Linked DNA regions of Homo sapiens: regions 2, 3, 4 and 5 are each linked to region 1. Evidence: fine-mapped expression QTL. A gene starts in region 1. Each other region holds a variant in brackets. All regions are shown on one strand. Distances are between the middles of the regions.

Evidence for each region. PIP is the estimated chance that this variant, and not a neighbour inherited with it, causes the effect.
Region 2: its variant is fine-mapped to the expression of NAGA in whole blood (TOPMed, PIP above 0.99).
Region 3: its variant is fine-mapped to the expression of NAGA in whole blood (INTERVAL, PIP 0.93).
Region 4: its variant is fine-mapped to the expression of NAGA in whole blood (INTERVAL, PIP above 0.99).
Region 5: its variant is fine-mapped to the expression of NAGA in whole blood (INTERVAL, PIP 0.98).

Annotation. Positions count from the first base shown.
Region 1 is chr22:42,068,354-42,073,456 of GRCh38, reverse strand. It overlaps NAGA (alpha-N-acetylgalactosaminidase), which reads left to right and starts at 2,645. Exons shown (of 9, transcript NM_000262.3): 1 at 2,645-3,175; 2 at 4,883-5,018. The coding sequence starts at 3,160. RefSeq lists enhancers at 2,335-2,384, 4,740-5,103 and a silencer at 2,565-2,864.
Region 2 is chr22:42,101,191-42,106,293 of GRCh38, reverse strand. The region is part of intron 3 of NDUFA6-DT (NDUFA6 divergent transcript); the gene reads right to left. Among named protein-coding and RNA genes, the nearest start is that of NDUFA6-DT, 13 kb to the right of the region's middle. The variant G/A (reference allele first, on the strand shown) is at 2,108.
Region 3 is chr22:41,584,726-41,589,828 of GRCh38, reverse strand. PMM1 (phosphomannomutase 1) reads left to right here. Exons shown (of 8, transcript NM_002676.3): 1 at 1-110; 2 at 3,636-3,753. The coding sequence starts at 24. Among named protein-coding and RNA genes, the nearest start is that of PMM1, 2.6 kb to the left of the region's middle. RefSeq lists an enhancer at 185-864. The variant TTA/A (reference allele first, on the strand shown) is at 2,865.
Region 4 is chr22:42,234,320-42,239,422 of GRCh38, reverse strand. The region is part of intron 1 of TCF20 (transcription factor 20); the gene reads left to right. Among named protein-coding and RNA genes, the nearest start is that of TCF20, 34 kb to the left of the region's middle. The variant A/C (reference allele first, on the strand shown) is at 2,682.
Region 5 is chr22:41,721,423-41,726,525 of GRCh38, reverse strand. It overlaps MEI1 (meiotic double-stranded break formation protein 1), which reads right to left. Exons shown (of 31, transcript NM_152513.4): 7 at 2,453-2,583. It also overlaps the pseudogene RNU6ATAC22P. Among named protein-coding and RNA genes, the nearest start is that of MEI1, 24 kb to the right of the region's middle. The variant C/T (reference allele first, on the strand shown) is at 2,134.

The DNA of each region.
Region 1 (5,103 bases):
TGCTAGAGTAAACTTTCCTATGCTCATGCTTTTATTTTCTTGTTTATTGCCTGTCTCCCCTACTAAATTTTATTCAGTTAATACTGTACACCATAATAAATGTGTTAGAAGATAATAAGTGGCATGGAAAAACAGAGGAGGGTAAGGGAGATGGGAAATTGTGGGAGTAGGGAGGTTGCAATTGCAAATAGAGTGGTCAGGGTAGGCCTCACTGAGAAAGTAACATTGGACAAATACTTGAAGGAAATGAGGGAGCCAGCCATGCCAATTCCAGGCAGAGGGAACAGTCAGCGCAGTGGCCCTCAGGCCTGTTGTGCTTGAGGACCTGCAAGAAGGCCAGTGAGGCTGGGAGGCCTGGGGAGGGGCAGACAGTAGGAGGTGGGGGTAGAAGGGGTGGGATGGGGCTCTGTAAATCTGGGAGGGCTGTTACTCTAGACAGGGCTGTGAGGAGGGACCTGAGCGATTTCAAGGCATACTCTGGCTTCTGTGGTGAGAATCAATGTCAGTGGAGGCTGGAGACCAGTGAGGAGCCTGCTGCCACTATCCAGGCGAGATGTCACAAACGCGGCAAGAGCGGGGAGGGAGAGGCAGCCAGAATTAGAATGGCTGTTGAAGGTAGAGAACACAGGATTTGCTGAGGAGTTGGATGTGGGGAGTGAGGGAAAGAGCAGGCAGGACTGCACAGTTTTGGCTTGAGCACCTAGGAGAGTTGTCATTATCTGAGATGTGGAAAGTGGCCGGTGCTTGGTCTGGGTTATGTTTGAGACACCCAGTGGCCATCTGAGTGAAGGTGCTGTTGGGGCTCAGAAAGCGATGCCTAAAAATATGGCACTTGGGCATGCTGAGTACTTTGAACCAAAGGACACTGGAAGAGCCTCAGAAGCAAAGTATCTCTCTGACCTTCTCCTGCCCCCCTTCTTTCTCCTGTTTTTCTCCTGCAAGGCAGGCCATAGAAACTAAAAATCCTCCTCCCTAAGGTGAGTTATAGCAACTACAAATATTGGCTGGGCACAGTGGCTCATGCCTGTAATCCCAGCACTTTGGGAGGCTGAGGTGGGCGGATCACGAGGTCAAGAGATCAAGACCATCCTGGCCAACATGGTGAAACCCCATCTCTACTAAAAATACAAAAATTAGCTGGGCATGGTGGCGTGCGCCTGTAGTCCCAACTACTTGGGAGGCTGAGGCAGGAGAATCGCTTGAACCTGGGCGGCGGAGGTTGCAGTGAGCAGAGATCGCGCCACTGCACTCCAGCCTGGTGACAGAGGGAGACTCTGTCTCAAAAGAAAAAAAAAAAGAAAAAAAAGTAACTACAAATATTACTGGAAACATCCCCCACCTTTCTGTGTCGGGCCTGGCCATAAAGGAATTCTCTGATCTACCTTGCCTGATACTAGGTCATAAGACTCTCATTCCAGAAGGGGTCCTGCCCTCCTCCCAGCAGGAGGGAATGCCACACAGAGAGAACAAGAAGAATCCGAATCTGAACAGACATTGCTGGGTTTCCACACTCAGCTATTAACATTAAATCATTCCCTTTTGTCTAATCGCGTTTATACACAGTTGTCCATTCCTTATTCCTTTTTTTTTTTTTCTGTTGCCCGGGCTGGAGTACAGTGACACAATCACAGCTCACTGCAACCTCGACCTCCTGGACTCAAGCAATCCTCCCACCTCAGCCTCCCGAGTAGCTGGGACCACAGGCACCTGCCTGGCTTTTTAATTTTTTGTAGAGACAGGGTCTCACTATGTTGCCCAGACTGTCCTTAAATGTCTGGCCTCAAGCGATCCCCCTGCCTCAGCCTTCCAAAGTGCTGGGATTACAGGCATGAGCCACCAGACCCGGCCAGGGCTGTCCATTCTTCATCAAACCGAGACATAAAAATAAAGATTTCCCTGAGTATTTGTGTCTTCATTCCTGAAGGCTCTCAAGTCACATAAAACATTGAGTAAATCAATCTATTATGCTTTTCTCTTGCTAACCTATATTTTATTTGTAGGAGTGTCCGCTGTGACCTTTGGGATGAGTAAGGGAAAATATCACACCTTTCTGCCCCTACAATGCCCAGAACAAAGCATTTGGCACTTAGCAGTTTCTCAATAAATACTTGATGAATGAATGAAGAAGGAAGTAGCCCAGTCTGTGCGAGTAGTCCCTGAGCGTCAGGCGGGGAAGGAGAGCCGGCTGCCTTTGCGGGAGCTGTGACCGCCTGCTTTGGTGCCTCCCACGCACCCTCCTTGTAGAGACGATTAATCCCAGACTTCCATTTTCCTAGCAGCTCACTAGGCGGGCCTTGCTTCAGAGCAGTCTCTCATTTCCTCTGCACAAAGCCCTCAACCGTCCTCTGCACGGCCGCTTACTGAGCGCCCACGGTGAGCCTGGCACGATCCTTGCCCTCTTGGTCCCCACAGAGGTGGAAGGACAGGCCTCGCGGGGTCCGGGCCACGAAGGACAGCCCCGAGTCCGTTCTGCCAATGCCTGCCTCGCTAGCACGCAGGGCGGGAGCCCAGTGGGGAAGGGCTTAGGGAGGCTGGGAGGCCGGACCCATATGGGCGGGGCACAGCGTTGCTAGGGGGGATTCTGATAGGTTGCGCGAAGGGTTGCCTTCGTGAGGCCCCGCCCTCACTGGAACGCTTCGGACTTATCAGGTTACCGGATTCGAGTCAGAAGCGGCGGCAGGTCTGAACGCTTCGGTAGGATAAGTGCGGTGGGAGGGGGCTCTGCGGTTTTGGGGAGCCCAGGGCGGGAACCCGGACCCGGCTGGAAGTCCGGAGCCTGGCCGCAGCCCCGCCCCTCCGCTCTTTCTTGGTGACCTTAAGCCAGTGGCTGCCTTTTTCTGAGCCCGGGCGGGGCCGAAGGCGGCCCGTAGGCCCTCGGGACTCCCAGCACTGCAGAGGGTGTGAGGTCTGACATCCAAGACACGTTGTTTCGTATTTCTGAAGGAAGAACTGAAGCTCCGGGAAGTGATGGCTGGGGATGGGGCGGGCAACTTGGGGACCGAGTGTACGATCCACGCCTAAGGTTGAGGGCGGCCGAGCTAGCCAGGCAGCCGTGACCCCAGTGCTTTTCAGACGTTTCTTAGCTTCCAGAGCCCAACACATACAGCTGATACACGCAGACCAGATCTGGTCAGGTCCTCGGAAGCTGAGTCCAGAGCGATGCTGCTGAAGACAGGTACCTACACCGGCTGGGGTGGCTTGGAAGGGTAGGGGTGAGTGCTACAAGGAGTGCTTTGGCCCTTCTTCCCTAATGTGGGTATGTGGAGAGACAGGTTCCTCTCTCTTTTACTTAGAGCTGGGCAGGAAGGGAGGAGATGCTTCCCCATACGGGAATCATTTCTCCTTCAAAGGGGCCCTTCCTTTCTCACTTCCTCTCCCTCAAGCACAGAGGCCCTAACTGATGGATATCAGCATGTGCGGAGAACCGCCTGTACAGTCCCTACAGTAACTCCATATTACAGATAAGGAAACTGAGGCCCGAGGGGGAAAGGTCTCACTTAGGTGAGCTGATTGGGTGCCCATCCTGGCTGGCTTACTTCTTAAGCCTCTCTGAGGCCTCTTGAGGGTCTGTGGTAGAGAGCAAAGAGCTCTGGACTGGGGCTCAGGAGACCTGGAGTCTGGCCAATGGTCCCGACTTAACGATTTTTCAACTTTACTGTGGTGTGAAAGCGACGCACATTCAGTAGAAACCACAGTACGTATACAACCTGTGTTTCAGTATTCAGTAAATTGCATGAAATATTCAACAATTTATTATAAAATAGGCTTTGTGTTAGATGATTTTGGCCAGCTGTAGGCTAATGTGCGTTGTCGCACTTTTTTTTTTTTTTTTTTTTTGAGACGGAGTCTCACTCTGTCACCCAGGCTGGAGTGGAGTAGAGTGGCGCGATCTCGGCTCACTGCAACCTCCATCTCCCAGGTTCAAGCAAGTCTCCTGCTCAGCCTCCTAAGTAGCTGGGATTACAGGCACTCACCACCTCACCCCGGTATTTTTTTGTAGTTTTAGTAGAGACAGGGTTTCACCATATTGCCCAAGCTGGTCTTGAACCCCTGACTTACGGTGATCCGCCCACCTCGGCCTCCCAAAGTGCTGGAATTACAGGAGTGAGCCACCGTGCCTGGCCTGTCCACATTTTTAAGGTAGGCTAGGCTCAGCTATGATGTTTGCCAGGTTAGGTGTATTAAGTACATTTTTGACATAATATTTTCTTTTTTATTATTTTGGGATGGGGTCTCGCACTGTCACAGCCCAGGCTAGAGTTCAGTGGCACGATCTCAGCTCACTGCAGCCTCCGCCTCTGGGGTTCAAGTGATCCTCTTGCCTCAGCCTCCCGAGTACAGCGCATGCCACCACGCCTGGCTAAGTTTTTGAATTTTTAGTAGAGACAAGGTTTCACCATGTTGGCCTGACCTCAAGTGATCCACTCGCCTCGGCCTTCCAGAGCGTTGGGATTACAGGCATGAGCCACTGCATCTGGCTGATGTGATATTTTCAACTTACACTGGGCTTATGAGAACGTAGTTCCGTGGTAGGCCTAGGAGCATCTGTACTGTTAAGTTCTATATATGGGATGGGAGGAGCTGATGGGGGTTATAGGAAGGTTAGGACATAAGGTGTTAGTTTTGCTAATTCCAGCAATGCTGTGGTGACGGCCAGACCTCAAGCCACTGCCTGGCCCAGGCACCATCCTCCCACTTACTGCTTTGCAAGAGCCAGCCATTGCAGGAAGAGCCAATTCTACCCTAAACCCAGGAGTCCAGTTTCCCTTATATATAGGCAGGCAGCCTCTGTAGGGCTGAGCAACATACAGATGGGGTGGGATGAGGGCTGGAGCTGTGGGGGCAACTGATAGTCACCATCCCCTCCTCCCTTGCCCCCTAGTGCTCTTGCTGGGACATGTGGCCCAGGTGCTGATGCTGGACAATGGGCTCCTGCAGACACCACCCATGGGCTGGCTGGCCTGGGAACGCTTCCGCTGCAACATTAACTGTGATGAGGACCCAAAGAACTGCATAAGGTGAGTAAGGTCCACACTCACCTGATGAGCCTTGCCCAGGGCCCTGCAGATTCGGGGGCAGGAAGTGGAGAGTCCACTAGAAAAG
Region 2 (5,103 bases), 33 kb before region 1:
TATTGTAGAAGTAAATGATCTAAGGCAAACTTTAGCAATTGAAACAAAATATCAAGATGCAAATGCCTGGTTGGAATGGACCAAATATTCTGTCCGCACATGAAACAAAAGCAATTGTTATGCTTGTGCTCACGGCCAGCCAGAGACCCAGATAGACCCCTTTACACTCGGCTGGTCCCCCAGTCAACCAGGCATGGGCAGCATGGTAGCTCTCTTCCAGGATTCCATAGCTTGGGGCAATCAATCATGCCAAGCTCTCTCTTTGCTCTATCCCAAAGTTCAATATCCTGCGGGTCAGCCCCAGAGGGCCATCCAGCTTCTGGCTCCCAATGTCAATTTCACGTCCTGTCTCTCACGACAAGGGGAAAACTTGGTGTTCCTTGGAAGCTTAACAGGATGCAGTGAGCTTAAGCCTTTCCAAGAGCTTACCCATCAGTCTGCCCTTAGTCATCCTCAAGAAGATGTATGGTGGTATTGTGGCGGACCCTTACTGGACACTCTGCCAAGTAACTGGAGTGGTACCTGCACTCTTGTCCATTTGGCTATCCCTTTCACCCTGGCGTTTCATCAGCCAGAAAAAGAAAAGCCACAACACCATAAAATAAGAGAAGCCCCTTATAGGTTTTTTGACTCTCAAGTTTATTTAGATGCAACTGGAGTCCCATGGGGAGTACCTGATAAATTAAAAGCCCGGGACCAAATAGTCTGCAGGATTTGAATCAATATTTCCATGGGTAACTATTAATAAAAATGTAGACTGTATAAATTACATCTATTATAACCAACAGCAGTTTATTAATTATACCAGGGATGCTGTCAAAGGAATAGCTGAGGAGTTAGGGCTGACTAGCCAGATGGCTTAGGAAAACAGAATGGCCCTAGGCATGATACTAGCTGAAAAAGGTAGAGTTTGTGTTATGATTAAAACTCAGTGTCGTACCTTCATCCCAAACCATACTGCCCCAGATGGGAGCATAACAAAAGCCTTACAAGGACTTACCATTTTATCTAATGAATTAGCTAAAAATTCTGGAGTCAATAACCCTTCTTCAGGATGGCTAGACAGGTGGTTTGGTAAATAGAAAGGAATCATAGCCTCAATTCTTACTTCTCTTGCAGTCATAATAGGTGTACTCATTCTTGTTGGGTGTTGTGTCACACCATGCAACCATGGGCTAGTACAAAGGCTTATAGAAACAGCACTTACTAAAATCTCCCTTAGCTCTCCTCCACCTTATTCAGATAAGCGTTTCCTTTCAGACGATCAAGTCAAACAGCAAAGCCAAGACATCTTAAAAAGGTTTGAAGAGGAAGAACTATAAAAATTAAAAGGGGGAAATTGTAGGATACAATAAAATTCTTCAAAGGTTTAGCCTGTTAACTTCCTTGTTCTTTGTTCTCAAACTCAACTTTCTTGTTCTCTATGCCTCCTTGCCCCTAGTTACTGTAACTGTAAACAACTTTCCTGTCAGTCCTAATCAATAACTCACATCTGTTCCCTTGGTTACCCACTCTTCACCCGTTCCTCCCTTTGAAACCGCACATCCCACCATTGTAACTCACATTTCCCTTCCCTTCCTTATTTGGGAAAGTATTCACAAATAGCCAATTGGGTCAGTTTAGATTGTGCGGTCCAACCACAGCCCATGGAGGAATGACAAAGAGGCAGGGACTGCATTAGGAATAAAAACCCCTGCTTTCCTTTGTTCAGTGTGCTCTTGCAATCGTGATTGACACAAGCAGCACCCTTCTGCAGAAGTAAATTGCCTTGCTGAGAAAATTTTTGCCTGAGTGCTGGTTTCGCTTTGTGGCACTGAACATTTATCTCCAACAAGTAGAAGAAAGAACTTCAGAGCTTGAAGACAAAGCATTTGAAGTAACTCAACCAGACAAAGACAAATAAAAAAGAATTTTTTTTTTTTGAGACAGTCTCGCTCTGTTGCCCAGGCTGGATGGAGTGCAGTGGCGTGATCTCGGCTCACTGCAAGCTCTGTCTCCTGGGTTCATAGCATTCTCCTACCTCAGCCTCCTGAGTAGCTGGGACTACAGGCGACCGCCACCACACCTGGCTTATTTTTTGTATTTTTAGTAGAGATGGGGTTTCACC[G/A]TGTTAGCCAGGATGGTCTCGATCTCCTGACCTTGTGATCTGCCTGCCTCGGCCTCCCAAAGTGCTGGGATTACAGGCGTGAGCCACTGCGCCCGGCGAATATGAATTTTTAAAAATGAACAAAGCTTCCAAGAAATTTGGGATTACGTTAAACAGCCAGACCTAAGAATAATTGGTGTTCCTCAGGAAGAAGAGAAATCTAAACATTTAGAAAGCTTATTGGAGGGAATAATCAAGGAAAAGTTCCTTGCTCTCACCAGAGATCTAAACATCTAAATACAAGAAGCTGAAAGAACACCTGAAAAATTCATTGCAAAAAGATAATTACCTAGGCACACAGTCATCAGGTTATCTAAAGTCAAGATGAAGGGAAACATCTTAAGAGCCATGAGGCAAAAGCATCAGGGAACCTACAATGGAAATCCTATCAGATTAACAGCAGATTTCTCAGCAGAAACCCTATAAGCCAGAAGGGATTGGGGTCCTATCTTTAGCCTCCTCAAACAAAATAATTGCCAGCCAAGAATTTTGTATCCAGCAAAACTATGCTTCATAAATGAGGAGAGATAAAGTCTTTTTCAGACAAACAAATGCTGAGAGAATTTGCCACTAGCAAGCCAGCACTACAAGAAATGTCAAAAGGAGTTCTAAATCTTGAAACAAAAATAGAACCTCCTTTAAGTATATGTTTTAAAAGGCTTATAAAACAATAACACAATTTAAAAAAGCACAACTATCACTATGAATAAAACACTATCTCATAATTCAATACCAACATTGAATGTAAATGGCCTGAATGCTCCACTTAAAAGACACAGAATGGATAAAATTCACCAACCAACCATCTGCTGTCTTCAAGAGACTCATCTAATGCATAGGGACTCACATAAACTTAAGGTAAAGGGGTAGAAAAAGATACTGCACGCAAATGGAAACCAAAAGCAAGTACGAGTAGCTATTCTTTTTTTTTTTTCTTTGAGATGGAGTCTCGCTCTGTTGCCCAGGCTGGAGTGCAGTGGCACGATCTCGGCTCACTGCAACCTCTGCCTCCTGGGTTCAAACAATTCTCCTGCCTCAGCCTCCCAAGTAGTTGGGACTACAGGCATGCGCCACCATGCCCAGCTAAATTTTTTGTATTTTTAGTAGAGACAGGGTTTCACCATGTTAGCCAGGATGGTCTCAATCTCCTGACCTCATGATCTGCCTGCCTTGGCCTCCCAAAGTGCTAGGATAATAGATGTGAGCTGGCCAAGAGTAGCTATGTTTTTTTGTTTTTGTTTTTTTTTCTGAGACTAAGTCTTGCTCTGTCACCAGGCTGGAATGCAGTGGCGCTAACTTGGCTCACTGCAACCTCTGCCTCCTGAGTTCAAGCAATTCTCCTGCCTCAGCCTCCCGAGTAGCTGGGACTACAGGGGCATGCCACCACACCAAGCTAATTTTTGTATTTTTAGTAGAGATGGGGTTTCACAATGGTGGCAAAGATGATCTCAATCTCCTGACCTCGTGATCCACCTGTCTCAGCCTCCCAAAGTGCTGGGATTACAGGCATGAGCCATCATGCCTTGCCGAGTAGCTATTCCTATATCACACAAACAGACTTTAAAGCAACAACGGTTAAAAAAAAGACAAAAAGGGGCCAGGCGTGGTAGCTCACACCTGTAAACCCAGCACTTCGGGAGGCCAAGGCGGGTGGATCATGAGGTCAGGAGATCGAGACCATCCTGGCTAACATGGTGAAACCCCGTCTCTACTAAAAAAATACAAAAAAATGAGCTGGGCATGGTGGTGGGTGCCTGTAGTCCCAGCTACTCTGGAGGCTGAGGCAGGAGAATGGTGTGAAGCCGGGAGGTGGAGCTTGCAGTGAACCGAGATTGCGCCACTGCACTCCAGCCTGGGCAACAGAGTGAGACTCTGTCTCAAAAAAAAAAAAAAAAAAAAAAAAAGACAAAAAGGGACATTACATAACGATAAAAGATCAGTCCAGCCGGGCGCAGTGGCTCACACCTGGAATCCCAGCACTTTGGGAGGCTGAGACGGGCGGATTACGAGGTCAGGAGATCAAGACCATCCTGGCTAACATGGTGAAACCCCGTCTCTACTAAAAATACAAAAAAATTAGCCGGGTGTGGTGGTGGGCACCTGTAGTCCCAGCTACTCGGGAGGCTGAGGCAGGAGAATGGCATCAATCCAGGAGGCGGAGCTTGCAGTGAGATGAGAGCTGAGATCACGCCACTGCACTCCAGGCTGGGCAGACAGAGCGAGACTCTGTCTCAAAAAAAAAAAAAAAATCAGTCCAACAGGAAAATATCACAATCCTAAATACATATGCACCTTAATGGGCCAGGCACAGTGGCTCACACCTGTAATCCCAGCACTTTGGGAGGCTGAGGCAGGCGGATCACTTGAGTTCAGGAGTTCGAGTCCAGCCTGACCAACACGATGAAACCCCATCTCTACTAAAAATACAAAATTTAGCTGGGCATGGTGGCAAGCACCTGTACTGCCAGCTACTCGGGAGGCTCAGGCAGGGAAATCACTTGAACCCAGGAGGCAGAGGTTGCAGTGAGCCAAGATCACGCCACTGCACTCTAGCCTGGGCAACAGACCAAGACTCCATCTCAAAAACAAACAAACAACAAAAAAAAAACAGGTAAAGATGATACAGATTAACATCCTCATAAACACAGATGCAAATATTAACAAAATCTTATCACATTGAAAATAATATGTAAATATATACAACATTATCTATAGCATTTACTCCCAGGAATGCAAGGTTGGTTCAACATTCAAAAACCAATAAATGAAATTAACCATATTAACAGACAGAAAAAGAAAAATTCCATGATTATATCAATAGATGCATAAAATATATTTCACAAAATCAACATCTGAACCTCAAAGAAAAGAAAATTCCCAGCAAACGAGGAATTCATGGAAACATTTTCAATCCGATGAGGGGTATCTACGAAAAACCTACAGCTAGCAACATACTC
Region 3 (5,103 bases), 480 kb after region 1:
GCCCCGCGCGCGGACCTGCAGCCATGGCAGTCACCGCCCAGGCAGCCCGCAGGAAGGAGCGCGTCCTCTGCCTGTTTGACGTGGACGGGACCCTCACGCCGGCTCGCCAGGTAGGACCCTGAAGATTGGAAGCTCCCACCGGGAGTGTCACGCGGACACCCCCGAGGCTGAGTGTGGGGTCTGCAGCAGCGTGACCGTGGACACCCGGGGACCGAGTGTGGGATGCGGCGGTACCCGGCCCCCTGACATCCGGGGCCACCCACCGGGAGTGAGGGGACCTGGCCCTCACGTCACTGACCCCGCAGCGTCCTTGCCTGTGTTCTGCTTGGGAGTGCTGGGGTTGGATCCAGTACTGGAGGGAGGAGGCTGCGAGCAGGGGCCTAGCTCCCTCCCTCCCCGGAGGCTGTCACACGCCGCTAAGGCCTGGCTCACGGACGCCCCCGCCTCCTGAGCTGGGGATCCCACCCTAGTTCAGCCCTACGACACACCAGTGGTCGGAGCTGGCTTCTGAACCGGGGTTCCAGGCACACAAGCACACAGCCAAGCGTCAGTCATCATCTGGTGGGAGACAGGGCGTCTCGGAGTCTTCCCACCCCGACCTTTGCAGGCCTGGGACTGGGTCTAGTTTCTGAAGCCCCATCACCCACTTTACCTTCCACCCCCAGTCGTGGAGCAGAGAGGGCTTCTTTTCAAATTCGTTTATGAGCTCTACCCACCCGGATGTGAGAGGCTCCAGGCCTAGCCTGTTTGCTGTGAGGACACTGAGGAATAGTGAGGGTAAGAGTCTAGTTTTCTTCTAAAGACTCTCGCTGTGTTGAGCCTCTTACCTCTGCTCAGTTTTTCTCCCATTGGGTCTCATTGTGAGTGAGTCCCCAAAAGCCCCCTCACCAGCTGGATGCATCAGTAAGCAGGCTTCATTCATGCCCTCCCTGTGGGTAACCCACCCTCCAGTCTGGGGGCCTCAAGGACCAACCAACAGGTCTCCTAGCGTGGGGGAGCAGTGGGATGGGCTTTACTGGGCAGTGGCTGATGGGAACCCAGGTCTTAGCCTCCTCTCTTAGGTCCCGAATGCCCCTCCCCATCCTCTGTGGTGAAGTTGCCCTGGCTTGGGCCCTGGAGGCCTTCCTGCAGGGGTGGATCCGGGAGGAAGATAGCAGGACTGGAGCAAAGGTGGGCCATTTGCTTGTGGGTCACGCCTGTAATCCCAGCACTTTGGGAGGCCATGGTGGGCAGATCACCTGAGGTCAGGAATTCTAGATCAGTCTGGCTAACATGGTGAAACCCCGTCTCTACTAAAAATACAAAAATTAGGCTGGGTTCAGTGGCTCACGCCTGTAATCCCAGCACTTTGGGAGGCCGAGGCAGACAGATCACGATGTCAGGAGTTTAAGACCAGCCTGACCAATATCGTGAAACCCTATCTCTACTAAAAATACAAAAAATTAGCCAGGCGTGGTGGCATGCACCTGTAATCCTAGCTAGTCGGGAGGCTGAGGCAGGAGAATCACTTGAACCCGAGAGGCAGAAGTTGCAGTGAGCCGAGAATGTGCCATTGCACTACAGCCTGGGCGACAGAGGGAGACTCAGTCTCAAAACAAAACAAAACAAAAAGTAGATGGGCGTGGTGTCGTGTGCCTGTAGTCCCAGCTACTGGGGAGGCAGAGGCAGGAGAATCGATTGAACCCAGGAGGTGGAGGTTGCAGTGAGCCAAGATTGTGCCATTGCACTCCAGCCTGGGCAACAAGAGTGAAACTCCGTCTCAAACAAACAAATAAATGAATAAAAGAACTGGAACAAAAGTGGCAGGGCCTAGGCACAGTTCTGACTCCTCCCTCTGACCTTTTGCTCCACAAACATAACAACCTGAATAAGAACAGCCTATTAATTTGTCTACGGGCCAGCCTCTGTGCTTAGTGCCTTTTGAAAGTTAATTTTTAATCGTACACATTTTCATGAGCACACTCTCCTGGTAAAGAATGGAAACGTAACAGAGAAGGGTAAAGTCCACTCTGACCGCACTTGGGGAGCCTGGCCGGCTCCCCAAGTTAATGTGGTTACTGTGGTGTGGCTTCCCTCCAGGCCTTTATCTGGATCTATTTGCCCAGAGCAAATATTAAGCATTGTTTTGTGAGGCTATTTTTGTTATTGTTCTTTGGCTCCTCAAAAATCAACTTGATTGTGATGCTATTTTGTTGTTGTTGTTGTTAGAGACCGGGGTCTCACTCTGTCACTCAGTCTGGAGTGCAGTGGCGCTATCACAGCTCACTGCAGCCTCGAACTCCTGGGCTCAAGTGATTCTCCCGCCTCAGCTTCTGGAGTAGCTGGTAGCTGGGACTACAGGCAAGTGCCACCATGCCTGGCTAATATCTTTTTTTTTTTTTTTTTTTGGAGATGAAATCTCATTCTTGTCCCCCAGGCTGGAGTGCGATGGCATGATCTCGGTTCACTGCAACCTCCACCTCCCGGGTTCAAGGGATTCTCCTGCCTCAGCCTCCTGAGTAGCTGGGATTACAGGCGCTTGCCACCACGCCCAGCTAATTTTTTTTTCTTTTTTTTTTTGAGACGGAGTCTCGCTCTGTCGCCCAGGCTGGAGTGCAGTGGCGTGATCTCAGCTCACTGCAAGCTCTGCCTCCCAAGTTCACGCCATTCTCCTGCCTCAGCCCTCCCGAGTAGCTGGGACTACAGGCGCGTGCCACCACGCCCGGCTAATTTTTTTGTATTTTTTAGTAGAGACAGGGTTTCACCATGTTAGCCAGGATGGTCTCAATCCCCTGACCTTGTGATCCACCCGCCTCGGCCTCCCAAAGTGCTGGGATTACAGGCGTGAGCCACCGCGCATGGCCAATTTTTTTTTTTTTTTTTTT[TTA/A]ATTTTTAGTAGAAACAGAGTTTCACCATGTTGGCCAGGCTGGTCTCGAACTCCTGACATCAAGTGATCCACCCTCCTGGGCCTCCCAAAGTGCTGGGATTACTGGTGTGAACCACCGTGCCAGCCCATGCCTGGCTAATTTTTAAAAACTTTCGGCCAGGCACGGTGGCTCACGCCTATAATCCCAGCACTTTGGGAGGCCCAGGCGGATGGATCACCTGAAGTCAGGAGTTCAAGACCAGCCTGGCCAACATGGCGAAACCCTGTCTCTACTAAAAATTTAAAACTTAGCTGGGCATGGTGGCAGGCGCCTGTAATCCCAGCTACTCGGGAGGCTGAGGCAGAAGAATCGCTTGAACCCGGGAGGCAGAGGTTGCAGTGAGCTGAGATCACGCCATCGCACTCCAGCCTGGGCAGAGGTTTCAGTGAGCCAGAATCACACCACTGCACTCCAGCCTGGATGACAGAACAAAAATTCGTCTCCAAAAAAATTTTTTTTTTCATAGAGACAATGTCTTCCTTTGCTGCCTAGGCTCTAGTCTCAAACTCCTGGGTCAAGTGATCTTTCTGCCTTGGCCTCGCAAAGTGTTGGGATTGCAGACCTGAGCCACAGTGTCCAACCTGTCTAATTTTTGGTGTCTAAGCTTTGTACTGCTTCAGATCCAGGTAGAATGTGGGCTTCCTGGGTTCTCAGCACTAAGTGAGGGCTAAGTGGAGGTCCCAGACATGTTGAAAGCCAGAATGCTATGCTTCCCCTCTCCCCCCATAGAAAATTGACCCTGAGGTGGCCGCCTTCCTGCAGAAGCTACGAAGTAGAGTGCAGATCGGTGTGGTGGGCGGCTCTGACTACTGTAAGATCGCTGAGCAGCTGGGTGACGGGGATGAAGGTAGGAGTGAGGCTGGGGGTAGAGGGAGTGGGGAGTTTGAGAGATTCCTGGGCGTCTTCAAAGATCCAGTCCTGCTTCTGTGGGGCAGAAGAAATAGAGAGAGAGCAGCCAGATAGTTCCCTTACTGATTTGACAAACACTTGAGCACTTCCTATTGCCAGGGATTGTGCCAGGCCCTTGAGAAATGGCTGGGGCAAAGCAAGCAGAACCTGCCCTTATGCAGTTTACATTCTCATTTCTCCCTGCTGAGTCTTGATTTCCTCATCTTTAAAATGGGCTGAACCAGCCGGCACAGTGGCTTACGCCTGTAATCCCAGCACTTTGGGAGGCCGAGGCGGATGGATCACTTGAGATGAGGAGTTCAAGACCAGCCTGGCCAACATGGTGAAACCCCGTCTCTACTAAAAATACAAAAAATTAGCTGGGTGTGTTGGCACGTGCCTGTAATCCCAGCTACTCGGGAGGCTGAGGCAGGAGAATCGCTTGAACCTGGGAGGCGGAGGTTGCAGTGAGCCAAGATCAGGCCACTGCACTCCAGCCTGGGTGACAGAGTGAGGCTACACATCCAAAAATAAATAAATAAATAAATAAATAAATAAATAAATAAATAAAAGGGCAGAACCAATGATGGCTACCATTTGTCAAAAATGATCATGTGTTAATGTCATTGCATTTGATCCCCACAATCACACTTTAGAGTAGGCGTGATCATCCCATTTAACAGAGGATGACTCTGAAGTTATCCAGGAAATCGACTGGACCTCAGAGCCCCTGGTCTCAGCCCAGTCAAAGTGGGTGCCTCCAGTTCCTCAAGCCAGAAACTTCCTCGAATTTTTCCTTTTCCCCACCTCTTGTTTATTCCATCAGCAAACCCCAAAATATCTCCCTGTCCCCTCTGTCTCCATCTCCACCACGCCATCATAGTCCAGGTAACCACGTGCCACCCAGACCCCGCAACAGCCTCTGGGCTGTGCTCCCTGTGCCTCCCACCTCCCACCCACTCCAACTGCTTCGCCTGGCAGTCAGAGCTGAAACCTCCAACTCTCCCATGCAGCCAGCCTTGAGAACCCAGTGCGATGGCAGCTATAGAACAGAAGGGAGCCCCTCTGCAGAGGGGCAGGGGAGCACAGAGTGGAAATGATGCCCTCTGCCAGAGAGTACTGCATGGCTTCCAGAGGAGGAAGCTGAATCTTGGAGGATGAGTGGCAGGGAAGCCAGGGAAGGGCGGTTCTGACAGAAGGACCTGCATGGATGCCTGTGTGCAGAGGCCCACAGGTGTGACTGGCTTCTTTGGAAGAAAACCAAGCTGCAGAGGGAGAAAGGCTGGAGAAGCAGGTTGTAGCCTCAGAT
Region 4 (5,103 bases), 170 kb before region 1:
CTCACTGCAATCTCCGCCTCCGGGGTTCAAGTGATTCTCCTGCCTTAGCCTCCCGAGTAGCTGGGATTACAGGCATGCGCCATCACGCCCTGCTAATTTTGTATTTTTAGTAGAGACGGGGTTTCTCCGTATTGGCTAGGCTGGTCTCGAACTCCTGTTCTCAGATGATCCACCCGCTTCGGCCTCCCAAAGTGCTGGGATTACAGGCATGAGCCACCGCGCCCAGCCTTAAACTTTTAAAATTGTTATCTGTCATGAAGATCTGTGATCAGTGATCATCGATGTTACTTTTTTTTTTCTTTTTTGAGATGGAGTCTCGCTCTGTCGCCCAGGCTGGAGTGCAGTGGTGCGATTTCGGCTCACTGCAAGCTCTGCCTGCCGCGTTCACGCCATTCTCCTGCGTCAGCCTCCCGAGTAGCTGGGACTACAGGTGCCCGCCATCACACCTGGCTAATTTTTTTGTATTTTTAGTAGAGACAGGGTTTCACCGTGTTAGCCAGGTTGGTCTCAATCTCCTGACCTCATGATCCACCCACCTCGGCCTCCCAAAGTGCTGGGATTACAGGCGTGAGCCACCGCGCCCGGCCTGATGTTACTTTTGTAATTGTTTTGGAGCGCCACAAAGCACTCCCATATAAGACGGCGAACTTAATATATACATGTTGTGTATAGATGTGTGTTCAGACTGCTGCCAACTGGGTGTCCCCCCATCTCACCACCTCCTCAGGTCTCTCTGTTACCTCAGACACAACAGTATTGAAGTTAGGTCAGTTAATAACCTGATCATGACCATTAAATGTTCAAGTGACAGGAAGAATTGCACATCTCTCACTTTTAAATCAGAAGCTAGAAATGATGGTTTAGTGAGGAAGGCATGTCAAAAGCCAAGATAGGCTGAATACTAGGCCTATTGCACCAAACGTGGCCAAGTTATGAATGCAAGAAAAGGTTCTTGAAGAAAGTTAAAAGTACAACTCCAGTGAACACATGAATGAGAAGAAAACGAAACAGCTTATTGCTGATATGGAAAAGTTTTAGTGACTCAGATGGAAAATCAACCAGCCGCAACATTCCCTTAAGCCAGAGCCTAATCCCAGAGCAAGACTTTCTCTTTTCACTTCTGTGAAGGCTGAAAAAAGTAAGAAGCTGCAGAAGTGAAGTTTGAAGCTAGCACAGATTGGTTCCTAAAGTTCTTGAAACCATCTCTGTAACATTAAAATGCAAGTTGAAGCAAGTGCTAATGTAGAAGCTGCAGCAAGTTATCTAGAAGATGTAGCCAAGATCACTGATGAAGGTGGCTATATTGAACAGATATTCAGTGTAGCCTTATGTCAGAAAAGATGCCATCTAGGACTTCCATAATTAGGAGAAGTCAGTGCCTGGCTTCAAAAGACAGGCTGACTGTTATTAGGAGCTGGTGTAGCTGGTGAATTTAGGTTGATGCCAGTGCTCATTTACCATTCTAATAATTCTAGGGCCCATAAATTTATGCTAAATCTACTCTGCCTGTGCTCTGTCAGTGGATCAACAAAACCTAGATGACAGCACATCTGTTTACAGAATGGTTTAATGAATATTTTAAGGCCACTGTTGAGACCTACTACTCAAAAGATTTCTTTCAGAATATTACTTCTTGACAGTATACCTGGTCACCTAAGAGCTCTGATGGAAATGTATAAGGAGATAAATGTTGTTTTCATGCTTGCTAACACAACATCTATTCTGCAGCCCCTGGATCAAGGAATCATTTTGATTTTCAAGTCTTATTTAAGAAATATGTTTCATAAGGCTCTAGCTGCTATACATAATAATTCCTCTAGTGGGTCTGGGCAGAGTGAATTGAAAACCTTTCGGAAAGGATTTACCATTCTAAATGCCATTAAGAACATTTGTGATTCATGGGAGGAGGTCAGTACATGAACAGGAGTTTGGAAGATGATTCCAGCCCTCATGGATGACTTTGAGGGGTTCAGGACTTCAGTGGAGGCAGGAACTGCAGATGTGGTAGAAATAGCAAGAGAACTCGAATTAAAAGTGGAGCCTGGAGATGTGACTGGATTGCTGTAATCTCATGATAAAACTTGAACAGATGAGGAGTTGCTGCTTATGGATGAGCAAAGAAAGTGATTTATTGAGATGGAATCTACTCCTGATGAAGATGCTGTGAACATTGTTGAAATGCCAATGAAAGATTTAGAATATTACATAAACGTAGTTGATTAAGCAGTGGCGGGGTTGAAGAGAACTGACTGCAGTTTTGAAAGAAGTTCCACTGTGGGTAAAATGCTATCAAACAGTTTGGCATGCTATAGAAAAATCTCTTAGAAAAGGAAGAGCCAGTCGATGCGTCAGACTTCATGGGTGTGTTATTTGAAGAAATTTGCCACAGCCACCTCAGCCTTCAGCAACCACCACCCTAATTAGTCAGCAGCCATCAACATGGAGGCAAGACCCTCCGTCAGCAAAAAGATTAGGACTCCCTGAAGGCTCAGATGATTGTTAGCATTTTTTAACGATAAAGTATTTTTTAAATTAAGGTATGAACATTGTCTTTTAGACATAATACCATTTCACACTTAGTAGACTGAAGTATAGCGTACACATATAAAAGTTAATATGTGCTGGAAAACCAGAAAATTTGTGTGACTCGCTTTATTGCCACGGTCTGGAACCAGACCCAC[A/C]ATACCTGCAATGTTATGCTTGTGGCTGATTTTTCATAGAATGTTTGTGTCTCTTTGACTTTTTTATTTTCAAAATTTAGGATTGCAGGTGACTCTCCATTGGCTTATTTCAGAATGACTGGGGTTAGGGTGTTTGCTAATTGCATGCCAGTGGTCAGGGAAGAAGGGAAAACTCTTGCACTTTAGAGGCCATCTGCCTCCAAGTAGAGCTCCAACTGTCAGGCCACTGTCCCTCTGTGGGGAGGGTGGGGATTGGTCCTGTGGCTTGTAGTTCTTGCCATATAGATTAAGAATGCGCTCCGTCGGCATTCTTCATTGTGAATTAGAGGATTGATGAGGATTTAACCCTGCTGTGATTTCTATGAATGGACTGTAGATCCCAGGGTGTGGGATCTTTCCTAACTCGAGAATGACAAAAATTACCTGTCACAGAGTGCTGTTACACCAATCAGTAGTTATTTATTGTGTTTTTTAGGGTTTATTTTGTTTGTTTGATAACCTCTTTTCCATTTTTTTCCTTGTTGTCTTTTACTTGTTTTTTTGTTTTTGTTTTTGTTTGTTTTTTTGAAGTGGAATCTCACTGTCACCCAGGCTGGAGTGTGCAGTGGTGAGATCTCGGCTCACTGCAACCTCTGCTTCCTGGGTGTACAAGCAAGTGATTCTCGGATTACAGGTGCCTGCCACCATGCCCAGCTAATTTTTGTATTTTTGGTAGAGACAGGGTTTCACCATGTTGGCCAGGCTGATCTTGAACTCCTGACCTCAAGTGATCTGCCTGCCTCGGCCTCCCAAAGTGCTGGGATTATAGGCGTGAGCCACCATGTCTGGTGTCTTTTACTTATTTTATTATTGGTTCAAGTTTTTACCTGAGAGAGGGAAAGAGGGTGGTAATTCTAACAGTGATAATTTTGATTTATATGGTACTTAGCTGTTTGCAGACTTACTGTGGGACATTCCCGTGTGGTGGCAAGGTAGGTTAACTCCACTTTTGCAGGTGAAGAATGTGAGACATATGGGTTAAATAACTTGCCCAAGTCACAGAACAAGTGGCAAGACTAGGAAGTATTTAGATTTCTTAATTCTAAATGTAGTACTTTTTCCAACAGATGACCCAGAAGAATCAATAGAAAACAAATTTAATAGTGGAAGCAATTGTATGTACAAATAAAATTGTATTTTTTGTTCACTTCGCTTACTAAAATAAAATCCTATTTCTAGATGATTTTCTAAACATGTTTTTCTTGGTCTCTTTGTTCAAGTCATTTAGTTTGACTCTAGGTAAGATAGTACTACTCAATGTTCTTTCTGTCACTTCAGGAGAGAGATGGTGTGCACCAGTTGATACCCAATGTTCCCTTGTTCTTCTCCCTGATATTACATCAGAGAAGTCCCCAGTTGAGAAGGGAGGAGGAAAGTTTTATGGTTACTGTTCCTCAAATCTCTTGGGAAAGACAGCAAACTGCTGTCAGGAGTAGTTTTCTTTTGTCTCAGTGTCTGTTACATTTATACATGGCACCCTCCTTATCATAGTTATGGCTTGCACCCTAAAATAAGGTCTAGAGCGACAGACATTTACAAAGTTCTTTTTTTTTTTTTTTTTGAGACAGAGTCTCATTCTGTTGGCCAGACTGGAGTGCAGTGGCACGATCTCGGCTCACTGCAACTTCTGTCTCCTGGGCTCAAGCAATTCTCCTGCCTCAGCCTCCCGAGTATGTGGGACTACAGGCATGCGCCACTATGCCTGGCTAATTCTTGTATTTTTTTTAGTAGAGGTGGGGTTTCACCATGTTGGCCAGGCTTGTCTTGAACTCCTGACCTCGTGATCCGCCTGCCCTGCCCTCCAAAAGTTCTGGGATTTACAGGCGTGAGCCACTGCACCCGGCACAAAGTTCTTATGCTACCGAAATGATCTTTTTGTTCTTCTGACCCTAATTATTAGGTTTTCTGACCCTAAATTAATTTGCTAATTCTTGATGCTCTTCTTGGATACTTAGATGTAACTATTTCACCTTAGTTTGGAGTTAGCATTTTGATGTTTTTAATATATTTGAAATAATCCTGCAAACTATTTTTTGGTTTGGGCTTTTAAGTGGGACGCTCAATCTTCAGAAGGACTTTTAGCTTATGGACACTTAAAAAAAGCAAGAACTAGCACATTGTTTCTTGGTATTTTGGAATTGTGGTGAGTTTGAGGCAACCGTGGAAGTGTAGAGTGTGTTGACTCACCTCCGCTCCTCCTAACTCCTGTGTTCATTTCACAGGAATTAATCGTCCAGACAATATTCCTCCCATGCCTGCATCCCCAGCCATATGGAGAGGACCCCATAAACTGTAAAAAGGTTCATTGGCTTTTATCTGGAGGGGACTAAACCCATAGAACTCGGTTCTGCTTTTTGCTTCATTTGACAGGTTGACCTATGGT
Region 5 (5,103 bases), 350 kb after region 1:
TATTCTTTTTTGAAGTTTAATTGGTTAAATTTCATTACACTTCAGTTTTGTGATTTGATAACACATTTTTAGTTTCCCTGTTGTTGTTTAAGTACATATGTTTGAAAATGGCAACAGTAACTGCTTTTAAGTTACTGCTTTTAAGTTAAGTTTTAAGCTTAAAACTACACTAAAACTTATGGAATACGTGTATGATTCCTAAGTCAGAAACCTGATCCTAGCTCATTACACTTGATGACCGACATTTAAACTCTGAAATGGACTAAACTATTTTCTTTAGAAGTCAGTTCTTTTCTTTTCTTGCTGTAGTCTCAGGACAAACTTTTCTTGCTATATTCTCCTGCCTCAGCCTCCCAAATAGCTGGGATTACAGGTGTGTGCCACCACGCCTGGCTAATTTTTGTATTTTTAGTAGAGATAGAGTTTCACCATGTTGACCAGGCTGGTCTCGAACTCCTGACCTCGTGATCCACCCGTCCCGGTCTCCCAAAGTGCTGGGATTACAGGCATGAGCCACTGCACCCGGCCTCCCTTCTCACTTCTAACCAGAGCTCCTCCTCCTCTTCCTTGCTGCAGAAAGAGCCCCAGAGTTTGGGCAATCAACCCCTGCTATCACATCAGGGTTTGCAGCTCTGCCAGCCCCCGTGCCGAGCACTGGGGAAAGATGCCAGACTCAGGTTTTGCCCTGAAAGAGCTCCCAGCCAGTCAACCACAATATGGTATGAGGTAAGCACGGTGACAGTGGGTCACATTCCGCCTAAAGGAGCCAGGGTGACAGGGGAGCCCTATAGGCTTGAAGGCTGACTCATATCAGCAGATAAAGAGAGGAGAAATGCCCTATAGGCAGAGGAAGAGCAACTGCACAGGCAGTGAGACAGGATGACCTAGCATATGCAGGACCAGGGAAAGACTGCATGTGGCTGGAGCACTGGGTTGTGGGGTGGAAGAGACAGGAAAGTGAGGCTGAAGGATATCCAGATAAAGAAGGTTCTCAGTACCAAGCTCAGAATCTGATCCCTAAAGCAACTGAGGTGACTTTGTTTCTATTGCTGTAAGTATTCTCCATTTTCAGGCAGCCCAAATGTGAAGGGGAAGTGCAGAGGTAAGAATTTACGGCTGGGCCTGGGGGCTCATGCCTGTAATCCCAGCATTTTGGGAGGCCGAGGCAGGCGGATCACAAGGTCAGCAGTTTGAGACCAGCCTGGCCAGCATGGTGAAGCCCCGTCTCTTCTAAAAATGCAAAAAATTAGCCGGGCATGGTGGCTTGGCGCCTGTAATCCCAACTACTCAGGAGGCTGAGGCAGGAGAATTGCTTGAGCCTGGGGGGCGGAGGTTGTAGTGAGCCAAGATCACGCCACTGCACACCAGCCTGGGCAACAGCGAGACTACATCTCAAAAAAAAAATAATAATAATTTACAACTGAGGCTAGGTGCAGTGGCTCACACCTGTAATCCCAGCACTTTGGAGGCCAAGGTGGGAGAATCACTTGAGCCCAGGAGTTGAGACCAGCCCAAGCAACATAGAAAGATCCCTGTCTCTACGAAAAGTTAAAAATTAGCCATGCCTCATGGTGAACACCTGTAGTCTCAGCTACTCAGGAAGCTGAGACAAGAGGATCGCTTGAGCCCAGGAGGTTGAGGCTGCAGTGAGCCGTGATTGTGCCACTACATTCCAGCCTGAGTGGAGAGAGCAAGACCTCGGCACTTAAAAAAAAAAAAAAAGAATTTACAAATGAAAGGAAATCTACTTTCTATCACCCAGGCTGGAGTGTAGTGGCATGATCATGGCTCAATGCAACCTCCGCCTCCTGGGTTCGAGCAATCCTCCCACCTCAGCCTCCTGAGTAGCTGGGATTACAGGTGCATACCACCACGCCCACGCCCAGCTAATTTTTTTTTTTTTTTTTTTGAGACAGAGTCTCGTTCTGTCACCAGGCTGGAGTGCAGTGGCGCGGTCTTGGCTCACTGCAACCTCCGCCTCCCAGATTCAAGGCATTCTCCTGCCTCAGCATCCCGAGTAGCTGGGACTACAGGTGTGTGCCACCACGCCCAGCTAATGTTTGTATTTTTAGTAGAGATGGGGTTTCACTGTGCTGGCCAGGATGGTCTCAATCTCTTGACCTCATGATCCGC[C/T]AGCCTTGGCCTCCCAAAACGCTGGGATTACAGGCGTGAGCCACCACGCCCAACTTTTTTGTATTTTTTATAGAGACAGGGTTTTGCCATATTGCCCAAGCTGGTCTTGCACTCCTGGGCTCAAGCAATCCACCAACCTAGGCCTCCGAAAGTGCTGGGACTACAGACATGAGCCACCGCCCCCAGCCAGTATATTATTTTGCCCAGTAAGAAAACACTTGGAAATCTGAGATAGGAGTGGTAGATGAAGACAAGGCCCAAGAAGCACTTGGGTCCCCTTGTTATTGAACCTAGAGACCAGGAATCACAAGACAACTACCTTTTTGAGCACCAAAGGCAGTGAGGTATTTCCTGATGACCCTTCGATATTCTTAGCACTTTCTCCCAGTCCATCCTGGTTCATGATCATGGACACAAAGAGATCATACTTCAACAGCTGCCTCAGCAAACCTAGGAAACAAAGGGATTGGGAAGTAAGGCAAGAGGAACACAGGCACCAGAGTACTCCCAAGATAGCCCCTCAGACATCCCCAGAGAAACTTCTTCATCCCTCTACAAATATGAAGAATGGTTAGAATCCTTAAGCACCAATTTGCTTTTTGCACCCGACTCTCTTCCACACAGATCTAGTGAGAGCCCACTAAGTGCTAGGCCTAAGGGTCTAGGGATTCAAGAGTAAGCAAGATAAACATAGCCCGACTGCCTCACTCAACTATAAGTTTCATGAGGGCAGGAATAATGTGAGTTTTTTCAACATAACATCATCCATCACCTGGCACAGTTCCTGACACATAGCAGGAACTCAAAAAATATTTTTTGACTAACAAAGGGAGCATACACTCCTGTAGGAGAAACAAACACAAAAACAAGTAAGACAAGACCAGGCGTGGTGGCTCACACCTGTAATCCCAGCACTTTGGGAGGCCAAGGTGGGTGTATCACTTGAGGTCAGGAGTTCAAGACCAGCCTGGCCAACATGGTGAAACCCCCTCTCTAGTAAAAAAATACAAAAAGTAGCCTGGCATGGAGGCATGTGCCTGTAGTCCCAACTACTCAGGAGGTTGAGGCAGGAGAATCGCTTGAACCCAGCAGACACAGGTTGCAGTGAACTGAGATGGCGTCACTGTACTCCACCCTGGGTGACAGAGTGAAACTCCATCTCAAAAAAAAAAAACCAAGTCAGACAAATGACCCTTATAATTGTGATAAATGATGTAAATGAGAAATACCCAAATACATGAAAATGTATATGAGGATTTAACCCAGTGTGGGGGATCAGTAAAGCCTTCCATCAGCAAGTACCATTTAAGCTGAATCTGAAAAATAAGTACGTAAAAGTAGGTGAAGTGGGGAGAAGTATTCCAGATACAGAGAACAACATTCTAGAAAGTGAAAGAAAGCCAGAATGGCTGGGGGAAAAAAAAGTCCAGAAATTACATTTGAGAAGTAGTCACAAAAGACCACATAAGCTATGTTAAGGATTCTGGTACTTATGCTGGGATTCATGGTAAGTCACCAAAGTGTTCCAAATAATACATACTTTAACAAACAAGTAAAGAAATGCATGTCAGAATATTAAATATTAAAATTAAATAATGTGGAAAAAAGCCCAGAGGACCGCAGGAAATCAAATGAATCATCTAATCTAGCCTGGGGGCCCAGGGAAGGCTTCTATAAGAAGATATTTGAACCAAATCTTGAAGGATGAGAAGTTGGATGTGAGCCAACTTCTGGGCAGAGGAATATATAAAGGCAGGAGAGTATGGTGTGTTCCTGGAGATGGATTTGGTTCAGTAAGGCTGAGTTAGGGTGGGGACAGATAGAGAAGTGAGAGATGAGGCTTGAGAGGTTAATAAGGATTAGACCATAAACAGCTTATGAGCATAGTGGGACCCCATCTCTACAAAAAAAAAAAAAAAAAAAAATTAAAATGCTGGCAAGGTGGCGTGCACCTGTAATACCAGCTACTTGGGAGATCAAGGTGAGAGGATCACTTGAGGCCAGGAGTTCGAGGCTGCAGTGAGCTATGAACATGCTACTGTACTTCAGCCTGGGCAATAGAACAGGTCCCATCTTTAAAAATAAGTAAATTAAATAAAATAAGAACTTATGAGGATCTTGGGTTGTAAAGTAAGTGAATAAGATGACATAAGACAGAATATAAGACCCTTGGTGCTTCAAGGGTCCAAAGGATGTGACTACATCCCTGGCTGAGGGGAGAGGGTGGGAAGGAAAGGCTCCAGAGAAGAGGTGACCTTTAAGTGTTGTCTGAAAGAAGGTTAGCACTCCCGTTGACCAGGATAAAAGAGGCCCTCGGGTCTGACAAACATGCATAGGGTTAATTTTTTTTATTATTTAAAAAAAAAAAAAAAGAGGCTGGCCGCGGTGGCTCACGCCTGTAATCCCAACACTTTGGGAGGCCGAGGCAGGCAGATCACGAGGTCAAGAGATTGACACCATCCTGGCCAACACGGTGAAACCCCGTCTCTACTAAAAATACAAAAATTAGTCGGGCATGGTAGCACGCGCCTGTAGTCCCAGCTACTCGGGAGGCTGTGGCAGGAGAATCACTTGAACCCGGGAGGCAGAGGTTGCAGTGAGCTGAGATCGTGCGACTGCACTCCAGCATGGTGAAAGAGCGAGACTCCATCTCAAAAAAAAAAAAAAAAAAAAGGGGTAGCATTTAAAAACGGGAATTCTGGCTGGGTGTGGTGGTTCATGCCTGTAATCCCAGCACTTCGGAAGTCCAAGGCACGTGGATCTCTTGAGCCCAGCAGTTCAAGACCAGCCTGGGCAATATAATGAGACCCAGACTCTACAAAAAAAAATTTTTTAATTAGCCAGGCACGGGCTGGGCACGGTGACTCATACCTGTAATCCCAGCACTTTGGGAGGCCAAGGCAGGCGAATCACGAGGTCAGGAGATGGAGACTGTCCTGGCTAACACGGTGAAACCCCGTCTCTACTAAA